7 linked regions of the Homo sapiens genome follow. The protein of the gene in region 4 interacts with the protein of the main gene of each other region in a pairwise test. Each region holds a gene or a part of one and is shown on either strand. Other genes may lie near its edges. The genes, in order: SNURF, MKRN1, LRSAM1, UBE2W, RNF115, RNF152 and AKR1C3.

What was found.
Region 1: the proteins of UBE2W (region 4) and SNURF interact in a two-hybrid assay, tested with the Homo sapiens proteins (one large-scale study listed by IntAct).
Region 2: the proteins of UBE2W (region 4) and MKRN1 interact in a two-hybrid assay, tested with the Homo sapiens proteins (one large-scale study listed by BioGRID and IntAct).
Region 3: the proteins of UBE2W (region 4) and LRSAM1 interact in a two-hybrid assay, tested with the Homo sapiens proteins (one large-scale study listed by BioGRID and IntAct).
Region 5: the proteins of UBE2W (region 4) and RNF115 interact in a two-hybrid assay, tested with the Homo sapiens proteins (one large-scale study listed by BioGRID and IntAct).
Region 6: the proteins of UBE2W (region 4) and RNF152 interact in a two-hybrid assay, tested with the Homo sapiens proteins (one large-scale study listed by BioGRID and IntAct).
Region 7: the proteins of UBE2W (region 4) and AKR1C3 interact in a two-hybrid assay, tested with the Homo sapiens proteins (one large-scale study listed by BioGRID and IntAct).

What each region holds. Positions count from the first base shown.
Region 1 is NC_000015.10:24,964,987-24,967,153, forward strand, and holds part of SNURF (SNURF protein), read left to right. Parts: intron 1-2,042; exon of another isoform or gene 2,043-2,166; intron 2,167-2,167.
Region 2 is NC_000007.14:140,455,506-140,459,005, forward strand, and holds part of MKRN1 (E3 ubiquitin-protein ligase makorin-1), read right to left. Parts: intron 1,362-3,500; coding exon 1,147-1,361; coding exon of another isoform or gene 1,143-1,146; exon of another isoform or gene 710-1,142; intron 396-709; coding exon 285-395; intron 1-284. UniProt on the Homo sapiens protein: E3 ubiquitin ligase catalyzing the covalent attachment of ubiquitin moieties onto substrate proteins. These substrates include FILIP1, p53/TP53, CDKN1A and TERT.
Region 3 is NC_000009.12:127,454,510-127,458,009, forward strand, and holds part of LRSAM1 (E3 ubiquitin-protein ligase LRSAM1), read left to right. Parts: 5' UTR 1-18; coding exon 19-90; intron 91-488; coding exon 489-545; intron 546-1,066; coding exon 1,067-1,111; intron 1,112-2,806; coding exon 2,807-2,884; intron 2,885-3,500.
Region 4 is NC_000008.11:73,823,363-73,826,862, reverse strand, and holds part of UBE2W (ubiquitin-conjugating enzyme E2 W), read left to right. Parts: intron 1-1,613; coding exon 1,614-1,716; intron 1,717-3,500. UniProt on the Homo sapiens protein: Accepts ubiquitin from the E1 complex and catalyzes its covalent attachment to other proteins.
Region 5 is NC_000001.11:145,738,368-145,741,231, forward strand, and holds the end of RNF115 (E3 ubiquitin-protein ligase RNF115), read right to left. Parts: 3' UTR 501-2,864; downstream 1-500. UniProt on the Homo sapiens protein: E3 ubiquitin-protein ligase that catalyzes the 'Lys-48'- and/or 'Lys-63'-linked polyubiquitination of various substrates and thereby plays a role in a number of signaling pathways including autophagy, innate immunity, cell proliferation and cell death.
Region 6 is NC_000018.10:61,886,508-61,890,007, forward strand, and holds part of RNF152 (E3 ubiquitin-protein ligase RNF152), read right to left. Parts: intron 1-3,500. UniProt on the Homo sapiens protein: E3 ubiquitin-protein ligase that acts as a negative regulator of mTORC1 signaling by mediating ubiquitination of RagA/RRAGA and RHEB.
Region 7 is NC_000010.11:5,097,414-5,100,913, forward strand, and holds part of AKR1C3 (aldo-keto reductase family 1 member C3), read left to right. Parts: intron 1-20; coding exon 21-137; coding exon of another isoform or gene 138-185; exon of another isoform or gene 186-763; intron 764-1,388; coding exon 1,389-1,466; intron 1,467-1,913; coding exon 1,914-2,036; intron 2,037-3,500. UniProt on the Homo sapiens protein: Cytosolic aldo-keto reductase that catalyzes the NADH and NADPH-dependent reduction of ketosteroids to hydroxysteroids.

The sequences.
Region 1 (2,167 bases), on a different chromosome or scaffold from region 4:
TAGAGTTAGGGAAATAGTATAATTTTTCCCCCTTGTGCGTTTTCATTTTGAGAGTAATTGGATTATGGAATGGGTAAGCAGGATTGGTTAACACTGCCTCATTGTCCATGTGTTTAGGATTCTCAGGATTGGTATACTTAGAATGTTATACTAGAAGTGTTCAATATTTACCCATTCATCTCCTACTTCCTACCAAATCATAAGTAGTATTGGGAGGCAGTCTTCCTGGAGGAGTTGTGTGGTTATTAGCCCTAAAGATCAATGAAGGAGGCTGGGTGCGGTGGCTCACGCCTGTAATCCCAGCACTTTGGGAGGCGAAGGTGGGCAGATCACCTGAGGTCAGGAGTTCAAGACCAGCCTGGCCAACATGGTGAAACCTCATCTCTAGAAAAATAAAAAAATCAGCCGGGTGTGGTAGTGTGCACCTGTAATCCCAGCTACTCAGGAGGCTGAGGTGGAAGAATCGCTTGAACCTGGGAGGCAAAGGTTGCAGTGAGCCGAGATGGTGCCATTGGCTGTGCCTGGGTGACATAGCAAGACTCCATCTCAAAATAAAGTAAAAATAAAAAGTTCACTGATTTATTTTAAATTTTTTATTCTGTCTTTCAGTGTATTTGTCACTAAATTAGCTCTTATTCTTTGGGGCTGGATGATGTATCGTGAGTTCGAAGGGAAATTGGAAATTGGAGCTGGAGAGTTGTCTTAATATATTTTATGCTAAGCTTCACATGTCTTTTCAAATTAATATTCTGCACTCTATGAATTAAATTCTGTGTAGGCTGCCTCATTTTCTCAGTCTTTAATCTTCTATTGGGTTACAGGTTAGATCTGAGGGGGACATTGCAATAGAGAATTATCTTACGTTTCAAGATAACATTATATATATTTTTTTTTACTGAAACACTTTTTAGACCTTTATGAATAATAATCAGAAACTTAGTTGTCATTTGTAAACAGAGGTTAGAGTGGAGAATGCCCAAATTAAGATTTATTTATTCAGTGATTAGACTATGAATTAGAGTATAAAGTAGACTATGAATTAGAGTGTGAAGATTTAGAGGTATGTGCAGTGCAATTCTGACTACTTGGAGTTAGTGCAAATTTCACAGTTGTCTAGATGCCCTCCAGAACATTCCCCTCAATGCAGACACCAACTCCAAGCTCCAGGGTTGGCAGGGCACCCACACTTCCGACCAACAGTCTATAGATTCTGAGGTCCTACTATTTTCTCAGACTTTATAATTGACTAAGGTTTTATAAATGACTAGTAGATCTCAAGAAAGTGCTATACTTACTAGTTTTTTTTATAAAGGATACAAATGAACAGATGCATAGAGCAAAATCTGGGCAGGTCCCACACAAATCTTCCCTGTCCTCAGGATGCATTACCTGCACATTAGCGTATATCACCAATCAGGAAGCTCACCAGAACTCCAGATGTCGATGATTTTTGTTGGGGATTCATTATGTTGACAAGATTGAATCACTGGACATGTCACTGAATTCAGTCAGCAACTCTCCTGCCCTCCCAGGAGGGCTTGCTCAAAACCCCAACCCTTTAGTCTTTGTTTGATCTTTTGTGGCCTGGTTAGTCACCATCTTGAGACATCTCATTACCAAGAACTCAGGTGTGATCCTAGGGACCCACCTTGAGTAACAAACACATTTCTTTCACTGGGTAAATTCCAAGGATGTATAGGATGTATAGGTTACTTCCCAGGAACCAGGAGCAAAGGCCAGTTAAATTCTTTATTATACAGAAGCAATTTTAAAATGTTACTGAAAAACCATAGAAAAAAGTCCAATTTCCAAATCCTTACATGCCAACAAGGGCAGCATTGTTGGTGATCCCCCAGCTCCTCACCTCAAGGCAAGCTGTCATTTCCTGTATGTCTTCCTTCTCATCATCAGATTTCACAGCCAGGTTACTGATTCATAGGGGTATGTCGAGGGCTTTTGTCTGGAATTCCCTGCTTACCAGTAGATGATTGGTTTACATATTTTAAGAGCCCTTAAATAGCCCTGGAAGTTCTATATTTCAGGTAGTGACTTGTCAGGAGGATCAATATGAAGGACGGCCTAAACATCTCCCTGCAAATGCTTTAGCAGCATCTCCCTCCCCTCACCCCTGGGGAGAAAGGATTGTTCACACAGGATAATTTGAAAG
Region 2 (3,500 bases), on a different chromosome or scaffold from region 4:
GGACAGCTATGACACGGATTCAGAATAAGGTAGAACCCCACTCATGGGGCCTTACTTGTCAACAGTAGAGACCTCTTTATAACACAGTCCCTTGGCATGGACCCCAAGGACTGTGTTATAGCAAGATATATACTGGATGTTATCAGGGTGACAAAATAAACTGTCCTGGGAAGTCAAAGAAGGGTAGGAAGGAGGTAGGAGTGTATAATGCAGCACCATTCTTTTCAAAGTGAACCCAAGCTCTGTTGGGCTCTTCGCTTGAGAAAAGGCTGCAGTGCTCATACCTCATTGCCTCCTTGTATTTCAGAATGAGTTTCTGCTTCTCTTCTTTCTCCTCCACCCAGTACTCACTTGGAATGACAAAGTTAGATGTGATCCGGCATTCTGGGCAGGACCTGGGAAACAATGAACAGGCTGCAATGCAAATTCCCCTTTTACAGGCCCACTCTTCAAGGACACACCCTGGTGTGTCGCCTCCAGACTTAAAGACTTAACTGAAAGGCACGTGGGCATTTCCTGAAAGGGTTCCACATACTGTCACACAACTGACCATTTCTTTCAAGCAAGGCAACCTCCTTTATAAATCCAACTCAAGGGCTAGCCAGTTCTTTTTTTTTTTTTTTGAAAAATATAACTTAGGTAAAAAACAAAAACAAAAGAAGACATTTCACACAGACTCCTTTTTCTTTCGTTTAAATAAATTTATTTCTTGTAGCTTTGCTCTGTTTAGATTATGTGGTTTTTGTTCAGTTATGAGAACAATCTTTAAAGGATGGTGGATTGTTGGCTAGCTTAATGAATGGAATAGGAAAGTGGAAATGTAAAACGTCAGGAAACATACATTCAGAGCTAGATCAGTTTGTTCACTGAGCCTAAACTGGCTAATAATCCATTAAACACAATCTCCTCAGAAAAAGCACGAAGATTCTAACTGATACACAGGGTTTCCTCATTCAAATAAAAGTAGATAGACCAACTAACCTAGAAGCTAGCTGAAATACAAAGAAGAAATCCCCATTAGAATATCCCAGTTTCAAGATAAAATGCATGCATTTAAATGCGGTCCATCTGGTTGAAAGTTGGCACAAGTTACTAAATTCTTCCCCAAAAGAGAAAGCACAAATGAAGACTGGGGAGGAGTCTCACTTTATGATCTTGCTCTCAAATTGCTTAGCACTCCTCCACTTGCGAATGCACTTGAGACAGTAGGTGTGGTTGCAGTTGGAGAGGATCCCGAAGCGGCGCTCACTGGGGTTGGCTTTCTCATAGACCACCTCCATGCAGATCCCACACACCATGTCCTTGCTGCGCTGCACGGCAAATGAGAGCTCCATGTCCTTCTCATGGGCCTCAATGCACGACTAGAGAAGGTGGAGAGAGAACAAGTGGAATCCAGTCATTGAACCCTGAAAAACTTGAGCAACAGTTAATGATTCACAGTCAAAGAATCAAATAGTCAACTGAAAAAACAATGTTCCCAAGCTGACACGAAAATTAGCTTTGCTGACAAGTAAACACAGGTGTGGTGTTTTTTTTTTGTTTGTTTGTTTTTGCGGTGGTACTTAACAATACTAGAAAATCAAACTATGAGGACTCAACTTCGGGAACTGAAAAATTACCCAATTTTCTCTACCCCAAACCTGGAGCTCAACTACATTAAAGACGGTTTTCCATACTGTTTGTTATTTCTGGTTTCTACATGAGGTTAAGACCCTAGTTAAAACCTGTCGGAAAATAAGGGTGACAGGCACGTAAACTCTCTTATGCCTTTAAAGAAAAACAACTTCATCGAGATTTTTCAACTACTCAGCTTGATAGACTGATGCACACTTAGGTTAGGTTAGATTAGCCCACTTTGGGGCTATTATAAATAATGCTGCCAAGAACATTCATGTACCAATTTTTGTGTGGACATCATATTTTAACTTATAAAAAACATGATTATAGGAAACATAAAAATGCAGAAAACTCCCAGCACTTTGGAAGGCCAAGGTTGGGTGGATCACATGAGGCCTGGAGTTCGAGACCAGCCTGGTCAACATGGCGAAACCCCATCTCTACTAAAAATACAAAACTGAGGCAGGCGTGGTGGTGCATGCCTGTAGTCCCAGCTATTCGGGAGGCAGAGGCTGCAGTGAGCCGAGACTGCACTGCTACACTCCAGCCTGGGGGACAAAGCAAGACTCTGTCTCAAAAAAAAATAAAAATAAAAAAAATAACACTGCAGAAGAGCAATGTCATCCATAATCTCACATCATCACTAAACATGTCTTTTCCTAAACCTTTAAAAGAAAAAACATATATACATATATTCAGAGGTAGGTTCTACTACCTCAATATATAGATATAACGTATAGAGATTTATCCTGCCTAAATTCACAAAAGTACGCTGAAGATAGGGATCAAATTATGTCTACCTTATAACATGCCTCACACCCTAAAACCACATTTAAAAAGATGGAAATTTAAAAGAGATGGAAATGATTAGAAGCAAACTTTGCTCCAATAAAGTTAAAGTTTCTAACACAATGTCTTCTGAACCTACCCTGGCTCCCATACACTGCTGCTGGAAATGTAAAATCCTGCAGCCACTGTGGAAAAGTATGGCAGTTCATCAAAACGTAAAGCAGAGTTCCTATGTAACCCAGCAATTCCACTCCTAGGTAACGGAAAACATATCTTCACAGAAAAACCTATATACAAATGTTCCTAGCAGCCTTATTCATAATAGCCAAAAACTGGAAATGATCTAAGTGTCCATCAACTCATGAATGGAAAAACAAATGTGGTCTAGCCATACAAAGACAATAATTCAGCCATCAAAACTAAGAACGGCTACACGCAACCACACAAAGAACCTTGAAAACACTATGTTAAGTGAAAGAAGTGAAGTCAATCACAAAGGACCACATTACAGGATTCCATTTACATGAAATGTCCACAATAGGCCAATCCAGAGACAAAGCAGATTCGTTATTGCCAGGAGCTGGAGGAAGGCTGGAATAAAGAGTGACTGCTAATGGGTGTAGGATGATCAAATTATCCTAAAATTAGTAAAATGGTAATGGTTGCACATCTCTGTAAATATACTAAAAACCAATGAAATGTGCATTTTCAAAAGATTAAACATATTCAATGTGAATCTCAGAAACATTATTTTTTAAAAGAGGAAAAAAATGTTAGAAGTCTATAGTCTGAGTTTCTGGAAGTAGGACTTCTTTTTTTCTTTTGCCTCAACCTCCTGGGCTTGAGCGATCCTCTTGCCTCAGCCTAACAAGTAGCTGGGACTATAGACACATGCCTCCATGCCCAGTTAATTTTGTTCACTGGAAATATGACTTCTTGATAAAGCATCCAAGAAGCCCAAGAAAGGAAAACTTCCCTACTCACTGATAACCATTCAATTCATCAAATGTTTCTCTGAAATAAACCCACAATGCTGTGAAAGGGCAAATAATGATTCTCACATCTAATAACACACACATCTCCCTAAAGACTTA
Region 3 (3,500 bases), on a different chromosome or scaffold from region 4:
CTCTGGGAAAAGGGAAGGATGCCGCTCTTCTTCCGGAAGCGGAAACCCAGTGAGGAGGCTCGGAAACGCCTGGAGTACCAGATGTGTTTGGTGAGGGAAAGTGGGTTTCCTCTAACTCTATCCCATCTCCTCCTCGGTCCCCATGGAGTAGGCCTCCGCACTGCCCCCAACAAGCCGTGCTCCTTCCCATCTGCCTCCCCCACCCACAGAAGAAATATTTGACTTAGACCCAACAGATGAGGCCCCCTGCCAAGGGTGCTTCTCCCCTGTAGACTGAGCGCACTGTCATTGCTTTTCAGTTCCTCATCCCTCTGGGCCTCAAGCTCTGGGAAAGCAGGGGTCATTGGTTCACCTGCCAAATGGACCAGTGGAACCAGATAGTGTCTATGGTCCTTTGCAGCTGCTTACATTTATGTTCTTTGCCTGGCTTGTCCACTCTGCAAAGGTGTTTTGTCTTAATACTTTTTAAAAATTCTTTTTATCCTTAGGCAAAAGAAGCTGGGGCAGATGACATTCTCGACATCTCTAAATGTGAGCTCTCAGAGGTAAACTGAGGATAGTGTTGGGCTGTGAATTGGATCTGTCCCGTTTTCTTGGATCTTGTGTCCCTAGGAAAGACAGAGGTGGACTGGGGCTTTAGAAAGGCCAGAAGCTCTAGTCACGAGATGTTTCCTTAGATTTTGTTCTCGTCCAAAATAATTGAAGATGATCCTTTGGCCTCAATATAACGTAGTCTCCAAGAGTCAAGGAGTCTAGGTAGAAAATGTACCCATAGACTCCTACATTGCTGGAAGGGCCTGGCATTCTCCAGCCCCTGAAGGGGTTCACAATGGGGACAGGGTGGGTGGGGCAGGGCAGTCTCCTGCCAGCTGACCGAGGGAAGGGCTGGCCACATCCCCAACACCACTGCTTGCCAGCCTTGCCCCTGGGCTCAGCACTGCCACCTGCTGTGGCGTTTTGCCCTTGTTCACCTCCTGCCTGTCTCTTCCTCACGTGAATGCCACTCAGAGAACAAGCTAAAAACTGGCAGGAGGGGAGACACTTACTCTTCTTTATCTTATCTTAGATTCCATTTGGAGCTTTTGCAACATGCAAAGTTCTGCAGAAGAAGGTAAGATGGAGCTTCATCTTCAGAGACTTTCTTGTTGCATGTCTGCTTGTTTGAACCCACAAGGGACTTTGAGGAGCTGTCTTCCCGGCGTAGACACCTCCTTTCTCTCTGCTTCTTATGCTCTTGGCCTGCAGCAGGTGTTTTCACAGATAGGAGAGTAGGCTTTGGGGTTGGACCTTCCTGTGTCACATTCTAACTCTGCCCTCACTGGCTTCATGACTTGGGCAACTTCCTTAAACTCTTACTTCTCAGTTTCTTCCCCTGTGAAATGAAGACATTCATAGTTCTCCTTCCTGAGGTATTGTGAGAATTAAATGAGTGGTAGATAGCTAGATAGAGATAGAAATATACTGAGTGTACATGCCTACCACGTAGTAAAGGCTTATGAACCCCGGTGTTAGTAATAATAGAAACTCACGCCTTTTATTCTGGTCACCCAGGGGAGATTCAGAGGGGAGTGAATGATTTTTCAGCAGAGCATTGCAGCTTTGAATGCAGATGGGTAGAAGCGCTCTAAGTGAAGTATCTAAATGAGAATATGCAAAAAAAAAAAAAAAAAAAAGTGTTCCCTGCCAACAGAGTAGTGAGCTCCTTGGCGCTGGAAGTTTTGTTTGTTTTTTTTTTTTTTTGAAGACGGACGCTCTGCTCTGTCACCCAGGCTGGAGTGCAGTGGTGCAATCTCAGCTCACTGAAACCTCCGCCTCCTGGGTTCAAGCAATTCTCCTGCCTCAGCCTCCTGAGTAGCTGGGATTATAGGCGCCCACCACCATGCCCAACTAATTTTTGTATTTTTAGAGATGAGGTTTTGCCATGTTGGCCAGGCTGGTCTCGAACTCCTGACCTCAAGTGATCCACCTGCCTTAGCCTGCCAAAGTGCTGGGATTACAGGTGTGAGCCACCACGCCCAGTCTGTGCTGGAAGTGTTGGGCCGCAGTCAATGCCTAAGAAAAATGCAGTAGATTGGCCGGGTGCGGTGGCTCATGCCTGTAATCCCAGCACTTCGGGAGGCCGAGGTGGGCAGATCACGAGGTCAGGAGATCAAGACCATCCTGGCTACCATGGTGAAACCCGGTCTCTACCAAAAATAAAAAAAAAATCAGCTGGGTGTGGTGGCATGCGCCTGTAGTCCCAGCTACTCGGGAGGGCGAGACAGGAGAATTGCTTGAACCTGGGAGGCGGAGGTTGCAGTGAGCTGAGATCACACCACTGCACTCCAGCTTGGGCGACAGAGCAAGAGTTGGTCTCAAAAAAAAAAAAAAAGAAAAGGAAAAATAGCAGTAGATGACCTGGACTGAGCCCTGGCCCCTCTGCCAGCCCTGGAAGTTTTGCGCATGAGCTTTTATTTAACATCATGGCAGCCCTGGGAGGCAAGCACTTTATTATTCTCTATTTTCCACGTGAAGACGCTGGTGCTGGGAAGGTTATGATCAGGATGGCTGCAGGGGGATCCCTTCTCAGATGGAAGGAAGATGTAGACCTCTAAGGTCTCTTTCACCCTTGAAGATCCAGGTTTTAAGGAAGGGCATTAGATTCCCCATTGGGAGAGTTCATGATACTGACCCGCATCCCCGTGGTGGTGTCTGGGAGAGCAAGATGGTGGGGCGTGGCACGGCGCTGGGCTGGCTCCCACGCCCTTAGCCTGCCCTGCCTGCTGCTCTTCCTCAGCCCAGCATGGCCGCACATCTCTCCACACAGGTGCTGATCGTCCACACGAATCACCTCACTTCCCTGCTTCCCAAATCCTGCAGCCTCCTGAGTCTGGCAACCATCAAGGTACTGGGCCCTCCTCCCAGGCAGCTGGGGCTCTGCATGGGGTTCCACGCGGCAGCTGAGCGCCTGCTCCTTTTGGGCTGCCTCTTGCATGTCAGAGGGGCCCAATCTACCAGTCAGTCTGGGATTTGATCAGTATGGTTTACTGGATACTTCTGTGGGCTGTGTGTGGGTTAGGGTGACAAAGATGACCAGCCACAGGCCCTGTCCCTGGGGAGTTTACATGCCAGGAGGAAAGCCAAGTGACAGCCTCATGGCGAGTCAGCTAGCAGAGGGCGAGGAGACTGATGGTCCCAGGCAAGAAGGAAGAGGAGGGACGCGCAGGTGATCTGGAAGGACTCCCTGCTGACTGTGAGCTCCTCCCCGGATGGGCTGGGAGGCATTCACAACATGTGGGAGGTGTGAGCCCAGGGTTGTTATGCGCAGACCTGAGCTTGGGAGAGTGATATGCACCTTCAGAGGAGGCCGGCAGCACAGGTGTCAGCCCAGCAGCACAGGCCCAATCTGTTATACTATATTGTTTAGGGAATAATGACAAGAGAAAAGCCTGTATGTGTTCACTACAGATGCTTTCTTTCTTTTTTTTTTTTTTAATATTTTGCACCTGAGTTTGGTTGAA
Region 4 (3,500 bases):
AATGTGCTAGGTTTTTTACGTATGTAGGGTCATTTATCTTTCCAACAACACTATGAGGTGATTATCTTCTGTTTTATTATTGAGGTAGTTAAAACTGGAGAGATAACATAACTTGTTCACACAATGAGTTAAGATTAACTATAACTGCGACTTCAGTATAACTTCAGTTATAACTGTCTAATTTCACTATAAAATATTGTCTCTTGGGTCTGTGGTCGTATCTTTTATTACCATGTATGGTACTCAGCGTGCATTCTTAAAATGAATAGCCATGCTCTTAAGAGTCTGTATACTGTAGCTGATTTCTTTTAGAGAATAGGTACATTTATTATTTTACATAATCCAAGGTTCATAGTATGCGTGGTGATGACTAGAATCCCAACACTGTATTTTCTATCTTCCTTTTGTTTTCTTGTATTTTAAATACAAGAAAGTTTAATAACTGAAAAGTTCAAGAGAATTGCCCAGGTGTACAAGAATTATAAGTGACAGAGCTATAATTAGGAACACATTGTTAATGACTTCAATTCACTTTTGCTTCTAATGCTGCCCTGTTATCTTTGCTGTCATTATCCCTTATTCTTCCCATCTTAAAGAAAATAACAAGAATAGTATATAAACTGTAAATAACACATTTATGTTTATGATTGTTATATATGAAAACAAAGGCTTGCATAGATGGCATAGAAATGGGCTTTATTAAACAATTGAAACATAGTGAGAGATAAAGGAAAGTCACCACAAAGCCTTGCTTAATCATCAGAGTAAGTGGACTGATGTCAATTTAGCTCCCCTTGCCCTGTTAATCTTCTCTAGGATGTTGATGAAAAAAATAAGTCTGACAGCTACGGTTCTCTGTGGTCATTGTCTATACGTATTTCTCCATGGCTTCCACCAGTAATAATCAGAGGCAGTTGCTTTGTTTGATGTTATGTATAGAATACGTAATATCAGCATTGTAGAAATGGTACTTTGAAAAAATAAGGTAGTATAAATCAATTAGGAGGAGCACAGGCTTTGGTGTCAGTGCACCTTAGTTTGAGGTCTGTTTGTTTGTTTATTTTGAGACAGTCTTGCCCTGTAGCCCAGGCTGGAGTGCAGTGGCATGATCTTGGCTCACTGCAACCTCTGCCTCCCGGGTTCAAGCGATTCTCCTGCCTCAGCCTCCTGAGTAGCTGGGATTACAGGTGCACACCACCATGCCCGGCTAATTTTTGTATTTTTAGTAGAGACCGGTTTCACCATGTTGGTCAGGCTGGTCTTAAACTCCTGACCTCGTGATCTGCCTGTCTTGGCCTCCCAAAGTTCTGGGATTACAGGTGTGAGCCACCACACCCGGCCTTGGGTTTTATTTAGTTTGCTTTTTTAGACCTGGCTCTGTCTTTTGCTAGCTGTCTGACCTTGATCTGGTTATTTCACCGCTGAGTGTCAGAGAAGGGGATAGGTCATGAGAATTAACAGTAAGAGAGTTATTGGGAGGCTGGCATGTGCTGTTACACATAACCAACTCTTGTCCTAGTGCTTAGTGTATAGGAAGTACTTGGTGTCCTCTTTTCTCCTCCTTACCCCAGTCTCTATTATCTTAAGTTTTTAATTTGCCTTTTCTATTCTAGGTGGATTGTAGACATGGAAGGTGCACCAGGTACCTTATATGAAGGGGAAAAATTTCAACTTCTATTTAAATTTAGTAGTCGATATCCTTTTGACTCTCCTCAGGTAATTGCCTTGCTTTAAATTTTTTTTTTTGTATTTTTAGATAGCTAAATGCCAGAGATGTTTGACTCAGTAAAAACATATAAATCAGTTATACGTATGTAGATGGATTTGTTATTTCATTATCTTATTTGTCATATAATCAAGATATGAACATTACACTTTATTGGGATTAGGGCTTTACTGCATTTTGCTTCTAAAATTGTTTCATTTGTTGCTTATCCATAAATGCTAACAGAAAAGGGAATAGAAATCTAACCAGGCCTCTAGGCCAGGGGTCCCCAACCCCCATGCTGTGGACTAGTACTGGTCCATGGCCTGTTAGGAGTCGGGCCACACAGGAGGTGAGCAGCATTACTGCCTGAGCTCTGCCTCCTGTCAGATCAGCGATGGCATTAGATTCTCATAGGAGTACGAGCCTTATTGTGAACTGCACATGTGAGGGATCTAGATAGCACGCTCTTTATGAGAATCTAATGCCTGATGATCTGAGATGGAACAGTTCCATCCCAAAACCATCATCCAATCCCCAACCCCATCCATGGAAAAATTGTCTTCCATCACACCGGTCCCTTGTGTCAAAAAGATTGGGGACCACTGCTCTAGGCCATCGGAGAAGTTGACATTTTGGAATAACTGGAGGCACTTCTCCTAGGTCAGATGGTAGAATCACATGGTGAAGAGAAAAGTTCTCTGTTGGAAGGAGTACTATGATTTTGCATTGACATGCTGTCCTTGCAGCCTTTTAGTACAGGAAGGGCAGAGTACATCATCAGATGTTAAATATCTAAACATCAGCACAAAGTCTGATTATTATAATTTGATGCCCAGTGAGTTTAGTTAATAGCTTAATACTTAGACAAGGGATAATGGTGGTAGAGAAATGTTTTTTGAGAGCTATTTAACTATAGTAAATGATTAATCAGGTTAGAGAAAGGAAGACTCTAGGATGACTTCCAGGTTTCTGGCTTGGTAAGATAAGTAAATGAGTTACTATAATTACTTATTCTTCAGAGAATTATAACAAAGCACTTCATTTTTAAAATTTGAGGCTTGTGAGATCCGTTGGCTAAAATGGTAAGACATGATGCCAGCTCTCTCTAGTATTGCTAGCAAATGAGCTATTCTGGAAAATACAACCAAATACCTGAAATATTTCCCAGATACTGAAAATTTTGCTTGTTGGGTGCTGAAATGTACTATTTGGAGGAAAATCATATTTCATTGTCACTTTAAACAATATACCAAACACAGCTTAATCTTTTCTTAGTTATGTAAGAGAAGAGATAAAGTCAGTTATTGTATCATGCTATAAGTAAAGAGATAATTGTTTTAAAGCATAGATTTAAATGGATACTGACTCCTTAAGTTCTAAAATTTTCATATGAGCAGAAAACTACCAAGACTTTTAGGACTTATTTTTATCATTTTCATAAAAGTTAAAGTGAAAGGGTATGTGCTATTGTGACCTCTAGATGTCTACAATAAGCATTTGTAGACTATAATAAAAAGAACAAACATCTTCTCTCCAGAAGATTGTCATCACTTTTGTTGCTTTCTGGCTGGCCAGCATCATTTCTGACTGTAAATGTGTGGAGACAACAGGATCTCAGTCTGTTTTCATCATCAGCCTATTTGTCTACCTTCAACTAAGTTCAATGATGGTATGGGAAGGAAGAATATTTCACACCAATTCAAAAGCTTTTGACTAGGGAGATATTGGGGGAAGGCTTACTCTGGGAGCTTACAGATTTTTCACCAGAGGAAAATAATATTTCTGTAAGCAT
Region 5 (2,864 bases), on a different chromosome or scaffold from region 4:
CTTTACAGTCATGAGGGCCTATCACGCACGCATCTCAGGACAGGTGAGACTTCATTATATCAGGTATTTTGTTGCTATTCTAAGTTATAAGGCAGTAATACAAACTTTCTTTCCACAGCTTTGTAAGCCTTGTGCCAAAAGAAACTTTTAAAACAGCTACAGCAAGATGAGTCTGACTATGGCTTAGTATCTTTCTCATTACAATAGGCACAGAGAAGAATGCAACAGGGCACAGGGGAAGAGATGCTAAATATACCAAGAATCTGTGGAAATATAAGCTGGGGCAAATCAGTGTAATCCTTGACTTTGCTCCTCACCATCAGGGCAAACTTGCCTTCTTCCCTCCTAAGCTCCAGTAAATAAACAGAACAGCTTTCACCAAAGTGGGTAGTATAGTCCTCAAATATCGGATAAATATATGCGTTTTTGTACCCCAGAAAAACTTTTCCTCCCTCTTCATCAACATAGTAAAATAAGTCAAACAAAATGAGAACACCAAATTTTGGGGGAATAAATTTTTATTTAACACTGCAAAGGAAAGAGAGAGAAAACAAGCAAAGATAGGTAGGACAGAAAGGAAGACAGCCAGATCCAGTGATTGACTTGGCATGAAAATGAGAAAATGCAGACAGACCTCAACATTCAACAACATCCATACAGCACTGCTGGAGGAAGAGGAAGATTTGTGCAGACCAAGAGCACCACAGACTACAACTGCCCAGCTTCATCTAAATACTTGTTAACCTCTTTGGTCATTTCTCTTTTTAAATAAATGCCCATAGCAGTATTTGGAGTCTTTTCTTTTCTCCTAAATCCACAAACTCTCTTCTTTCTCTTTGGACAGATGACCTCTTGTCATAGTTAAGCAGAGAGTGGGCAGGATATTCCTGATAGGAGGAACTACATGAATAAAGGGGTAAGAGCACAGAAATTTAGCTACAGCTCCATGGTGAGCCATTAAAAGGAAAGAGACACTTTACCTGTGCTCCTTGGCAAGGACCTGCCAAATGTGGGAGCTAAGGTTTGTGGGAACGGAAAGAGATATGGCTGAAGTAGATGAGTAAGACTCTTATTAGTGATAGTCTTGAACCTCAAACTAAGGATTTTAGACTGTATCCCATGGAGATAAAAGGACTAGCCATGGAGGCAAAAAGACCTGGATTCAAATTCTGGCTCTGCAACATACCAGCTATTTGTCATTGGGCAAATGAATTTTTTTTTTTTTTTTTTGAGACGGAGTCTCACTCTGTTGCCCAGGCTGGAGTGCAGTGGCATGATCTCAGCTCACTGCAACCTCCACCTCCCGGGTTCAAGCAATTCTCCTGCCTCAGTCTCCCAAGTAGCTGGGATTACAGGCATGCACCACCATGCCTGGCTAATTTTTGTGTTTTTGGTAGAGACGGGGTTTCACCATGTTGGCCAGGCTGGTCTCAAACTCCTGACCTCAAGTGATCCACCCGCCTCAGCCTCCCAAAGTGCTGGGATTACAGGCGTGAGCCACCTCACCCAGTGCAAATGAGGTTTTGAGATGCTATTTCTGTTTACCTATCTGTAAAAAGGGATATTGCCTATTGTATCTTCTCTTTCCACAGAATTGTTCTGAGAATCAAAATGAGAGTCTGGATTTGGGACCTAGAGCCATTTGAGTTCTGACTCCAAAGTCTCCAAAGCTTTCTCCACTACATCACATTCATCTTAATCTTTCTCTACCTGTTTTAAATAGTTAGTTCTGTGTTTCTAACTAAATAATAAACTCACATAGGTAGAGATGTCTTTTGTTTTTACTATTCAAATAATCTTCTGGAGCTACTCAACATTATACAATCACTGGAAGTCTCAGAAGATATATCCAACTATAGGAAAAGTTTCAGCCATTGTACTATACTAATTATAGTCCACATATAAAAATCTGTGACACATAATCACAGAAAGGAAACATCACTGCCCAAGTTTATGAAGACATTTAAGAGCATCAGATTACTAGCTCTGACTCAAACTAAGCGGAATATATACAAAGCAATCCCACTTTGTACATACCAACTGAGTCTTGCTTCTAAAGAGTTTATTTACTCTGCTTATCTCGAGACTTGGTTAAACAGAAACTTAAAATACTTGTGTCTTGGCTTTCAAAATGTGTTGATACAATTGCCTTCAAATAAGCCTACAAATTTTCATGCATAATAGGTGGTTTTCTGGACACGCATCTTAGCCCCAATCTGTATGAGTGATTCACAAACACGGGTTTTGAACCTGTGAGGCCATGAGGTTATCAGAAGGAATCTATATACCATAATCTTCAGCCTGAATAAATATCTTTCAAATATTTGTATATATTTCAATTGGATGTAGATTCTGGTGTGACTAATAAATTAACTTAAAAGCATTACTGAAATCATAGCAGCTTTTTGTTATGTATTCTTTAATCAAAAATACTAATAATATGGCTATCAAGTTGTTGGAAGGGAATCTAATAATTTGGGGGTTTTTGTTTTGAGACAGGGTCTCTCTCTGTTGCCCTGGAGTGCAGTGGCACAATCTTGGCTCACTACAACCTCTGCCTCCTTGGTTCAAACGATTCTCCCTCCTCAGCCTCCCAAGTAGCTGGGACTACAGGTGCATGCCACCACACCTGGCTAATTTTTGTATTTTTAGTAGACATGGTGTTTTATTGTGCTGCCCAGGCTGGTCTCAAACTCCTGACCTCAAGTGATCTGCCTGCCTCAGCCTTCCAAAATGCTGAGATTACAGGCATGAGCCACAATGCCCAGCCAAGAATCTAATAATTTTTGGATCTTGAAAATTGTATTTCTTATTAGAAAAAGTAAAGAATCACAGGCTTACATCCTATGATCACAGATCTAAGT
Region 6 (3,500 bases), on a different chromosome or scaffold from region 4:
GGCTTTTTGTTACATGATTTTGCCCCCATTGTAGGCTAATTGCAGGTCACAACTGCTACATCAGCCAGCCACAGGCCCCCTTGGAAGGAACTGTGCCCCCAACCCTCTCCTGCACTAAGCAGGTCCAGGGTGAATGATAACTGGAAGGGTCCCATTCACTGGAACTCTTGGGAAATGTGGCTTGATGACAAGACATCCTGGGACATCTCTTCAATTCACCTCCCTTTATGCAAACAAGCTTGAGTGAATTTCTATTCTTTGCAATTAAACAGAAAGAAAAAGACACTTCAATCGTAGGTGATAATACAAGACAATCTATGACAAGTGGCCTTTGTAGAATGAATGAATGAATGTTGAATGAAATGAGAGATGGAGGCAATTTTGCCAGAGAACTTTGGATTATAAAGAATTTCTAAAGGCTAATGTGATCAAGTTAAATTTTTCAGAAGAGTTGAGAGCTGAACTGAGGCTTCGATGATAGGATAGAGGCAGAGGAAGGAAGAGGACATTTTAGGCCACAGAATGTGCTAGAATAAGAAAGAGGCAATGAAAAACATTTTGGGCAACAGTGGATTAACCATCCCAGCTAATGTTCAGTTTTAAAGTCAGGCGGAGCAAAAGTCGAGGTTGGAAAGGAAGTTTGGGGTCAACCTGGGGAAAACTTGAAAAGCAAAACTGAAGAATATGAGCTTCCTCCCACAAGGGCAACTAAAAGTTATTAAGTGAGGGGATGAAGGATTAATTGGCCTAATGGTCTAAGAGTGACAGCATTTTCCAAACTGGAGTGGGGTGGGAAAGCCAGAAAGTGAGCAAGACCATTGTCATAGCCCAGAGAGAAACAAGGTTCTTGACTAAGATGCGGCAGTGGCAACTGTCACTAAGTGAATCTGTCAAGGAGCAGAAACAGCAATAGTAAGAAGAATGCTCCTGGCTAGGTGCGGTGGCTCACGCCTGTAATTCCAGCATTTTGGGAGCCCAAGGCGGGTGGATCACGAGGTCAGGAGTTCAAGACCAGCCTGGCCAACATGATGAAACCCTGTCTCTACTAAAAATAGAAAAAATTATCCCAGTAATCCCAGCTACTCGAGAGGCTGAGGCAGGAGAATAGTTTGAACCCAGGAGGCAGAGGTTACAGTGAGCTGAGATCATGCCCCACTGCACTCCAGCCTGGGTGACAGAGTGAGACTCCATCTCAAAAAAAAAAAAAAAAAAAAGAATGCTCCCTATTTCTACAGTATCTGTCAAAGCTTTTACCAAAATCTCTTCAATTCTTGTCAAACCTCAGTGAGGAGTGCACCAAGTGTGATTATCTGGATGTCTAGATCAGAACTGAGCCGGGAAAGTTACACTTCCTTGGTAGGTGGGAATGCGATAGTGGCAGGGGAGAGGAGGTTGTAGAAAGAGAAAATACAAGCACAGAACACAGCATTTGGAGATTCTACTTCCTCATAACTTTGCTCCCACCAGCAGCACATCTTCATTTGCTCAGCCCCTCCTTTGCATGAAAGGCAGGTAACCAGGAAGTCTATGTGATGTTTGAGTAAGTTTCATCATGCAGGATGTTTGCAATGAGTTTTATTTATGCAGGCATTAGTATATCAAGGGGTAAATAAGGCATCCTCTCCACTCCTAGGCGATCACAAGCAGCCCCCTCACAACTCCACGAAGAACGTAGTCCAGGCCTTAGCAGCCAAACGTGATCTAGGCCAAGAAATCATGGACATCAAGAACCACCCAAAGGAGATGCAGGTCACAGATACACTATTTGAGGTCTCCCTCTTTAAATCCTACAATGACAGTGAGTCAATTAGAAATTGAAAATCCCTAAGCATGTAACAAGCACAGACGGTTCCCTACTTACAACTGTTTGACCTATGACCTTTGATTTTTTGACTTTACAATGGTGTGAAAACAATACACATTCAGTAGAAACCGTACTTTGAGTGCCTATACGACCAATCTGTTTTTCACTTTCAATACAGTATTCAATAAACTACATGAGATATTTGATGCTTTAATACAAAATAGGCTTCTTGTTACATGATTTTGCCCCCATTGTAGGCTAATGCGCATTTCTGGGCACAGTTAAGGCAGACAAGGCTGAGCTATGATGTCAGTAGGTGTATTAAATGCATTTTCCACTTACAATATTTTTAACTTATGAGGGGTTTATGAGGATATAACCCCACTGTAAATTAAGAAGCATCTCTACCAACTTTATCCCAATTGTGATTTCAATCATGGAGTCAGACTGCTGGATCACACAGTGTAACTCTCGAAGCCATGGGAAAAGAAGCAGGAAAACCAACACCTTCTTCCTTTCCGGTTTCCATGACGTCACAATGGGCAGTGCCAGAAACCACTTTCATGCCACAAGAGTCCTCTACCTGACCAGCCGACTTGGGTATGAAATTAAAGTGGTAGGGACCCAGAGGCCAGAGAAAATATAGAAATGCATTTTGGGGCTTCCCAAATATAGTTCAAGACTAGTCCCTCGGGGCTTTCATTTTCCTTCTCCCTCAGTCTGTGCCTGGCCCTCAGCCCAACCCCAGGCACCCTGAATGGGTTTTTGGATGGTCTATATCTGGTTCTTCCTGCTGGTCTCCAAGCTGCTCATCTCCCAATTCAGAAACGCTTTGGGTGCTACATCTTATCACTTGAATGAAGCCGGGTGGTCTCAACCTCCCTAGGTTGATACTGATATCCCCTCAGTCACTGTGACTTGGAGACTAACATAGTTTACCACACCACTTCCTTATTTGGAGAGCTATCTTTATAAAAATGACTTTGCCAAGGTGATTACTGAACCAAAAGCAATATTATTTTGTTAAATTCTACACTTATGCTTAAGGTATTTATCAAATCTTTAAAATGGCTCACCCGTGCATGCCGTTATCACAATGTGAACAAAGATATATGAGTGAACAGCTCTTCCCAAAGCAAAATCTCTGCAAGCCACCAACTGCTGAATCCAGAGCACCTTGCAATGCCTATTCCATAGCATCCAACTCTTTTTAGGGAGAGTGAGGCAAGGAAGGCTTTAGAACTCACCACCCTCCTAGTCAATACAGTTGCTGATGGAAGCACAAATGTCCCTAAACTCTCTGGGTGTTCTACTAGTCCTGTGACCAGAAAAAGCCTCTTGCCCAAATTGCTTTTTCTAAACATCAAAGTAACAAAAGGGTGACCCAAGGTTACCCTAAACACATTCCTGCCCCCTTCAGATCTTATCTGTTGCCCTGTGGTCTCTGCTGCAGGAGGCCACCTCCTGGGTGGCCCTAGGCCCATTGCCACTCTTTTTCTACCCTGGGCGGTTCCAAACAAACTCAGGAAGCCTTAAACAAGAGGCAGATGGTGAGGAAGAGAAAGTCTGTAAGTAACACCTCTCTATTACATAATGCTAAGCTCACAACCTCCTAGAATCAGCCTTGAAAATACCTAATGGCCTTTCACTTCAGAGTAAACATGCACTTGAAATAGGCAAAGAGAGGATTATAATT
Region 7 (3,500 bases), on a different chromosome or scaffold from region 4:
CCATTCTTTAACCTCTGCAGCTTTGGTCCACTTTTCATCGACCAGAGTTGGTCCGACCAGCCTTGGAAAACTCACTGAAGAAAGCTCAATTGGACTATGTTGACCTCTATCTTATTCATTCTCCAATGTCTCTAAAGGTATGCAGTTTGTATGAGCATAAAATTGCGCTTCTGCTGTCATTATAAACATTGTTTATCTGGATAGTTGAACAGAGCTTTTTATTAGGAGGATGTAGGGATTATCACACAGAAGAAGAACCGTAAGTGGAACACCTAATTTCCTTTCTTTCGAGTAAATTTTGAATCCTACTTCTCTAATGCACACCTACAAGAGAAGAGAGTACAGCAACCTCAAAGCCTCTTCCTCAAAAACTTGAAATTACAATAGTCTCTTTCAAGGCACTGTCTTAGTTGTGGCTTTTGAGTCCATCTCTTGGGATGTTCCCAGACACAGAGTTTCATGCAGTTGTGGTGCCCAATAAAACTGCTGCACATGTGATGCACAATGAGTTTCCACCATCTCTCCCCATTTCAAGCTGAAGCAGATTTGGTGGAAGCCACTATGCATGGTTCTTAAATTAGAAACCCTTAATGTGGACTTGCAAAGCTTTATTATTCTGCTGCCTCTTCTTTCACAATAGAGTTTGAAGCTGTATTTAGCCAGGAATTACTGTGTAGTGTATAACTTTTGATTTAAAGTTACAGAAAACTACTCAGGCTAGTTAATGCAAAAGAGTTTACTGAGTTATGTAAAATGGGAAGTCAAAGACATGGCTACATTTAAGGATATGAAATAGTCTACAAAAATGTATCATTTGTCTATTCTTATCTCTAAACTCCAACACTTTTTTTTATTATTGTTGACCCAAACTTTTTCATTGGTGGCGATTATGGCTTTGGAGCAGCTCAAGGCTCATGGTCATCACCATAAGACAACTCCTCTGGGTCTCCCAACTTCTGCTGACCCTATGTGATTCACAGTCCTGCCCAAAGACTATCAACTCTTCAGGTGGTCTGATAATCCTACCGTGTACAAGAGTACAATCCATTATTTTTGGATATCAAGGTATTTCCAAATCAAAGAGAGGTACTTCAATAGAGGAAATTATAAGGGCGGAATAAAGTGACATAAGTCAACTGTGAAACTTGATTAAGACCTAGAAAATGGTCCTTTTCCATGCATATAATATTTGTAAGAGATTAGAGGAAGCCTGTCTCCTGAATACATTCCTTATACCTTCATATGTAAAACACTTAGCACATATCACTTTCTGGAGCATTGTACCACCTGTCTCATGGAGGATTAGTGTCCTTAAAGGTACCTGGGGTTACAGCTATGAGTGGAGAAATTAATTTGTGACATCATTAAAATGACTGCTTCTATTTCAGCCAGGTGAGGAACTTTCACCAACAGATGAAAATGGAAAAGTAATATTTGACATAGTGGATCTCTGTACCACCTGGGAGGTGAGTGCTTGGCGGAGAGGACACAGAGAAGGATGACAAAAAGAGAAAATCTGTTTCCCAGGTTCAATAGGAAAGAATGGAATATGCACCATTAGATCTAGAAATTCAGAAACTTTACAAGAGTAGCTTTGGTGAGATGAAGGGAAAAACACAAAAGGAATGTTTAGAGAGTGGGGCACAAGACTTGGGGGCAAGGAGGACAGGAATCTCTTTCCTTGCTTGTGCATTAATCTATCCAGTTTCCTAAGGAAGAGATAGAAATTCTTACTCTTGCTGCCTCTATCTTCTTCCCCTATTTGCTGTTTGAATTTTTCTTTTTTTGACAATCACTGCTAGCTATTTTCATTGTCATACTTTGAAAGTTGTTGCTCTCACAGTTCTGTCTTGCATTTACCGTGATTTGCAGCCAACTGCACAAATAATTCCTCACAACCCCTTTCTCCACAGGCCATGGAGAAGTGTAAGGATGCAGGATTGGCCAAGTCCATTGGGGTGTCAAACTTCAACCGCAGGCAGCTGGAGATGATCCTCAACAAGCCAGGACTCAAGTACAAGCCTGTCTGCAACCAGGTGAGCTCCCTTGGCCTTCTCTCCTTTCGGTTCTTCATGCCCCCTCTTCCTGTCCTATTGCCAAATATCTGTTTGTTTTGTCCCAGTTATCTTTGTGAAGTAGAAGATTATCTAGAGAGCAAAGCTTCTGTCAAGAAAGGCGTGAAGATTTCTTGTTTGTACCCTGCTTGGAAAAGTATTAGGGAAAAATTGGAATGAGTTTAATGCTGAATCGTGTGTAATATTTAGGGGAGGTCCATTTGATCAGGGAGGCCTGGAATCATCAATTAGAACTCAAGGAAAGGTGGACTTACCTCTAAGCTATGAAAGATGACCAGAAAGTGCATGGGTGAAGGTGATTTGGAGGGAATGGTGTATAGATATGAAGCTAGGAAAAGATGAAATGAGCTGTACGTGAACAGAGAGTTAGAATAAGAGAAGAGAGGTGCTAGGGGTTTACATGGAATTTGGATGTCTGAATGCCTCTTCTTGATGTTTCAACAATTCTTGACCAGGGGCATAGATATACTAAAAATTAGCTGCAGACAATGAAAGTCATCCATGTCAGAAAGAGAAAAATTAGGCCGGGTGCAGTGGCTTACGCCTGTAATCCCAGCACTTTGGGAGGCAAAGGCAGGTGGATCACCTGAGGTTGGGAGTTTGAGACCAGCCTGACCAACATGGAGAAAGCCCATCTCTACTAAAAATACAAAAAATTAGCTGAGTTTGGTGGCACACGCCTGTAATCCCAGCTACTTGGGAGGCTGAGGCAGGAGAATCGCTTGAACCCAGGAGGCAGAGATTGCGGTGAGCCGAGGTCACGCCATTGCACTCCAGCCTGGGCAACAAGAGTGAAACTCCGTCTCAAAAAAAAAGAGAAAAATTACCTGTTTATGGAGGTAACTGTTCACAGTGGATGAAATCAACACTGAGGAACTTTAGCAGAACATAGACCTGACCTATCACTGCCCATGTCTTAGTCTGCTACTTCTCTTTGGGGTCTGTCATCCAATCAGTTGTTTAAACACATCTATTCTATGCATGGTTTTTTCATAGCTTAGGGATAAGTCCTTTTTTCCCCCTGAGTTATTGTTAATGATTCCAGGCCTCCTTGATCAAATTGACTTCCCCCAAATGTCACAAAAAAATTCAAAATTAAAGTCACTCTACCTTTTTGCTAATTTACACTTTTTTATTCTTTTATACAACTTAGAGCCAATGAGTAAAGATCTACCATTGAAATGTGAAGTGTATAAAATTTGTGAATTTGGCCTAATGATACAGTTCCATCATATCCAAATAGAAACATTAAGAAAATGCAGTTTTAATATTAGTCCTTCAATTTTTTATTATGATAATTTTCAAACTTTCAGAAAATTTGATAAAAATAATACACGATTCAACATAACCATTTATATTCAAAATTGTTAACACTTTGCCACATTGCCAAATATTTATGGCAAATGTTTATGTGGGTATATCTGC